Linked DNA regions of Homo sapiens: region 2 is linked to region 1. The links come from fine-mapping of genetic effects on gene expression. Tissue or cell type: lung. Region 1 holds a variant in brackets; the other region holds the start of a gene. All regions are shown on one strand. Distances are from middle to middle.

Region 1 (2,913 bases):
TTCTGGGCACTTCCAGAGAAGGGGAGCTTACATTTTGCAATGCCACCCAGTCCAATTTTGATAGCTATAATTGTCACAATCTCCGTAAATTCAACTCTTGTCCTAAAATTCTTCCAACTCAACATAATAATCTAATCTTTTTTCCATATGATAACCTTTTAAATAGTGAAGATCAGAGCTAAGTTACCCTTACTAACTTTGTCTTCTCAAGGCTAAACAGTTTCAGCTTCTTTGAGGAGGTGGAAGGAAACTTACCTTCAGAGAAACTCTCTTTTTGATAATTTGGGCAGTACTAAAGAGCCCTATATTCATTTTCTATTGCTGCTGTAACAAATCAGCACAAACTCAGTGGCTTAAACAATACAAATTCAGTATCTTACAGTTCTGTAAGTTAGAAATCTAACAGCCTCCCTGGGCTAAAATCAAGGTGTCAGCGGGGCTGCATTCCTTTCTGGAGGCTTTAGGAGAGAATCTGTTTCCATGCTGATTCTCCACAGCTGGGAAAGGTTCTCCGATTTTTTTAAGGACTCGTGTGATTAGATTGGGCCCACCTGGATAATCCAGCAAAAAAATCCCCTCATTTGAAGATCCTTAACCTTAATTAATTCTGCAATGTCTCTTTTGCCATTTAGGGTAACATTTTTACAGGTTCCAGGAATTAGGACGTGGACACCTTTGGGGGGCCGTTATTCTGCCTACCACAAGCTCCTTTATGGCCATTTTCCCTCTTATATTTGTCAACATCATTTACCCACATACACACTTTTACCTTTTTAATTTGATATAAATACACACACATACATATGCACATACATATGTGTGTGCTTATAAATAAATTATCCCTTTCTCCCCTGCTTACTCTGAGTGTCTATTCACATGCTAGCCATGGGGCATCCTATACAGTAGATTATACTTCAGATTTCCAATTCTGATCATTGCTTTTCAAACTAAATATGGATTTATCTTAAGTGACATGTGGTCACTTATCTCAGGCTTTGTCCACACAGCATCAAAATATTAAGTAAAAATGAAAATTCAGTCCATTTTCCAGATTTACCTAATTTCAGGGATCTGAAATACAAAAAAAGATGACGCAAGGCCTTCTAGCAGCCTTGCCCCCAAAAAGAGCCTTGGTTGAGCAAAACTCCCTGAGCCAACCAGCCCTCTAGCCTAGCTCACTGCTCTTGATAAGTGCTGTGTTCTTTCTACGATACCCAAAGATTGCCTAGGTTCAAATTCTGGCCACTTACTAAGCCTGTGATCTTAATCCACTTAATCTATTTGTGTTTTAGTTTACTCATCAGTAAATTGGAGATAACAGAGCACCTTCTAGAGGCTTATGATGAGGAGTGAATGAGTTAATACATATAAAATACTTATACTGCTGCCTGATAAATTATAAACACTCAATGCACATTGTAAGGGGGTATGAGACAGGGAATAAGTCTAAATCACTACCCAGCGAAGAGTCTTTGATGACTCCTGTGGTAAAGGTGAAGGAGGAAGGAGGAAATATAGAGCATGTCTATGTCTTAAAACCCATTTATCTTAAAGAAGACTAAATAAGGGGGATGGGGGGGTACACTTAAAGGCACCCCTGATGAAAAACCTCTGTCTCCACATAAGTCCAATCAGAAATTGATTGGGTAAACAAGCCCCTACTTTTTAATACAAACT[G/A]ACAACTGAGGCAAATATAATAATTCCACAAGCATTTAATGAGCACCTATAATACGACTCCTATCACAAGGATCGTGCAGTCTAGTTGAGTATTTCTCAAAAGCTTTTGACCTGATCTACAATAACAAATACCTTGTTTTTACTTTGTTTTGTTTTGTTGTTGTAGTTGTTGTTGTTTTGAGATGGAGTCTCACTCTGTCGCCCATGTTGCAGTGCAATGGCACGATCTCGGCTCACTGCAACTTCTGCCTCCCAGGTTCAAGCGATTCTTCCATCTCAGCTTCCCAAGTAGCTGGGATTACAGGCACCCTCCATCATGCCCAGCTAATTTTTGTATTTTTAGTAGAGACGGGTTTTCACCATGTTAGCCAGGCTGGTCTTAAACTCCTGACCTCAGGTGATCTGCCCACCTTGGCCTCCTAGAGTGCTGGGATTACAGGTGTGAACCACCACGCCCAGCCAACAAATAGGTTTTTACATTATGACCCAACACACACATACATGTATATACTGAAACAAATACTCTACCTTCTATTCTTTTTTTTTTTTTTTTTTTTGAGACAGGGTCTCACTCTTTCACCCAGGCTGGAGTGTAGCTGCACAATCATAGTTCACTGCAGCCTCGAACTCCTAGGCTGAAGTGATCCAACTACCTGAGCCTCCCCAGTAGCTAGAACTACAGGTGCCCACCACCACCACAGCCAGCGAATTTTTTAATTTATTGCAGTGATGGAGTCTCCCTATGTTGCCCAGGCTATTCTCAAACTCCTGGGCTCTAGCAATCCTCCCACCTTGGCCTCCCAAAGCATTGGATTATAGGCATGAGCTATTGTGCCTGGCCTTACCTTTTCTTCTTGTCTATTCTATTCCTCTTTTAAAAAACTCTTGTCACAACACCCCTCATCCCACTAAATTGATTTCACTACCCATTAATGGTCATGATCCAAAGTTTGACCAAACTGGTATTGAAAAACCTCAATCGGGACATGTGAGGAATTAACTTTAACACAATGGAGAATGGAAATGTGGAGAATGGGTTTCTCCCTAAATAGGAGCTTGAAATGAATAACCATCAAGGTCTCAGTCAATTCTAAAGGCCACTCATGGCCGGGCTCAGTGGCTCAAGCCTATAATCCCAGCACTTTGGGAGGCCGAGGTGAGCAGATCACCTGAGATCGAGAGTTCGAGACCAGCCTGACCAACATAGAGGAACCCCGTCTCTACTAGAAATACAAA
Region 2 (2,913 bases), 87 kb after region 1:
GTCTGGATGGTCATGTACATGGTCACCCAACTTTTTGGCCACATTAAGAGTTTTGTCTTTATTCTAAGAATAATGAGAAGCCATGATGGATTTTGAGCTAGAGGAGGTTGGGGGGTAGCATAATCAAATTTTAGTTGTGAAAATACTACTCCTGCTGCAGGGCAAAGAATGGATGGGAATATTGAAAGGAAAGGATAAATACCTTTAGATTAGTTAAGAGGCTACTACTGGACAACAGATCATGGTAGATTGGTCTAGGGTAATAGTAGCAGAGACAGAGATACTCAAATGGATTTGAGATTTGGTTTGAAGATAAAATGAATAGAACTTGATGATTGTTTGGATATGGAAAGGAAGAAAGTGCGAGGTGTCAAGGATGAGGCCAAGATTTCTGATTTGCAAACTAGAGGTTGGTATGACCCATTGAGATAGCAACAGAGATTTACACGAGCTAAAAATTTAAATGCGCGATATATCTGCATATCCATCACTGTCTAAAGGCACGGGCCTGGAGAACAAGGAAAGAGTTTGGGTTCAAAACTTGTTGATGTTCCTTTCCATTCACAGAGCCCTCTTTCAAGGCAGGACTATCCTATTTTCTGGTTGGATATTGGAGTCATTTGGTGGTCAGGCAAAAAAGAAGGTCCTTCTTAGCTGGTGATATGGGACGGGGAGCACCAGACCACTCTTAGCATGCAAATATCCCTTACTAACGCTCAAGTGCTTTTCACATGTACTGTTCACAAAACAGCTTCACATATAGGTTCACTGAAACCCACGACCTTGTGAGAAATTATAATCTACATTTAGGAAGCTGAGGGAGAGTTCTTAAATTACCTGTCCACAGAGCCAGTACGGGGCTGCTTTATGTCATCCTTTCACCTCCTATGTGCAGCCTCTAGGTGCAAGAGACTATCTTAAGGGCAACAGGAAACCTACCATATAATGGGGTCCCACTAGGTACCAGGCTCTAGCAGTTTAAAAAAAAGAAACACAACTTCAGAACTTCTAAGGATGTTTCCCACACACTTACCCCACAGTAAGTTCGCTTCTAAACTTTCAAAAAGTTTCACGTCCCAAGATGGGGTGAAGGTGAGACGGTGGAGATGAACCGGGGCAGACAGAGACCACCCCAAATACCGGACCCGGGGGAAATGGGGTACCAACGGCTGGGCCCCAGGAGACACTCGGAGGGGTCCGCGGGCTCGGCCCGGTCCCTCCGCTGGGGGGTTACCAGCCGGCCGGCAGCGAGATACCCAGAGGCCCGTTTTTCCACCGCGTTGCCATAGCAACGGCCTGGCCGGCTGCGCCCCGGGCCGCCCGCCCCATCCCGCGGGCCCGCCCTGAGCCAGTGACTCCAGGGACCACTCACCGCGGCCGGCGGACTGGCGGGTCTCCGACAGGTGCGCACACTCGGCGCAGGCTGTCGCTGAGCCCGGAATTCTGCACCGGGAGAAACTTTTCAGCCCGCAGAGCAACCGCAGGGCAGTGGACGGGGGCCGCGCGAGGACAAACAGCGGCGGCGGGTGCAAAGCCCCTTCTCCAAGCCGCGGGGTTGGCCGGGAGGTGCCGGCTGCACAACGGCGCCCACGTGACCCAGGTGCAGCCCCAGGCGCGCCCAAGGGCAGCTCGCCTTAGAGAAGGACCTAAAACCCCGTCTGGGGCACAGAGGAGCAGCCACGTGTTACGTAAAATAAAGCTTTGTAGCAGGAATATCACAGTACTGAGGTGATTGATGCTCAGGCCACTCTTCTCACTCGGAGTCAAGCCCATCAAGCCCCAGCCAGTTGGAGCAAGGGCTGCAAGCCTTGAACTGCAGTGAGTGGGGAGCTGGCCTAAAAAGACGGGAAAATGCTGGGGGGAGGGTGTTTGTCCCCACGCAGGGGCTGAGAAGACTCCTGACAGATCAAATGACGATTCTCAGGGATATGTTTTAGCTACAAACCTATGAGAACCATCTGAATGCCTGCCCCATGCAACAGAGGGTCCAGCTGTATGCTAATGTATTTACTGGCCTGAACTAAGAATGGCTTCTGTGGTCCTGGGTCCTACTCTCTAGCAGTGTGGGGAAGAAATTCAACTCTCCTAATACTAGCCTAATTATTTGAGGCAGATGTTCTCTAAAATTAGCTGATTGATAGCCAGTAACTTGATACGGCAGGTGGATTCATTGTATTGCTTCGGGGGAGGCTACATTTGGCAACTAGTTCATCCAGTCCTTTTCATCAAAAAACTCAAAATGGTCATAATGGGTGACTGGTAACTTCAAACTTCAAACCACTGGACTAGGCCGGGCGCAGTGGCTCACACCGATAATCTCAGCACTTTGGGAGGCCAAGGCAGGAGGATTGCTAGAACCCAGAAGTTCAAGACCAGCCTGGGTAACACTGGGAGGCCCCCATCTCTACAAAATTAAAAACTACCTGGCCACCAAAGGGCTGCAAGAAACCTACCATATAATGACGTCCTACTAGGTACCAGGCTCTAGGAGATTAAAAAAGATCTCCTAGGATAATCTCCCGCATCTTAAGGTCCTTAATCACATCTGTAAAGTGCCCTTTGCATATAAGGTAACATATTCACAGGTTCCAGCCTGGGCGACATAGCCAGCCCTGCCTCTAAAAACAAAAGCAACCACTGGACTGCGTTTTGCCCTGGATTAAACCAGACCACCAAAAAACTGTATGTTTGTACCATTTTGTCTTCACCGTTGGCAACATTGCATGAACCAAGTCATGTTTAGCACTATGCCATTTGCTTATATTAAGAGATGCTGTTTAAAAAAATTCATGATACCTCTGCATTTACTAGAGGGATTACTTTAAGAATGTTGTTTATTACATCTTTGTAGCAGAATCCTACCAGCTTGTCCAGCGCAGAGCTTTTCAAACTTTTTTGAGCACAATCCATCAA

Alleles and levels. Positions count from the first base shown, and alleles are read on the strand shown. Sizes are in standard deviations (SD) of each study's normalised expression.
For the expression in lung of the gene that starts at base 1,518 in region 2, A is the low allele of the variant in region 1 and G is the other (small effect, 0.18 SD a copy in GTEx).

The links.
Region 2: STK33 starts here. The variant in region 1 is fine-mapped to the expression of STK33 in lung (GTEx, PIP 0.94).

Annotation. Positions count from the first base shown.
Region 1 is chr11:8,506,053-8,508,965 of GRCh38, forward strand. All of the region lies in intron 1 of STK33 (serine/threonine kinase 33), which reads right to left. Among named protein-coding and RNA genes, the nearest start is that of STK33, 87 kb to the right of the region's middle. The variant G/A (reference allele first, on the strand shown) is at 1,678.
Region 2 is chr11:8,592,711-8,595,623 of GRCh38, forward strand. STK33 (serine/threonine kinase 33) reads right to left here and starts at 1,518. Exons shown (of 16, transcript NM_001352389.2): 1 at 1,373-1,518. RefSeq lists a silencer at 1,081-1,340.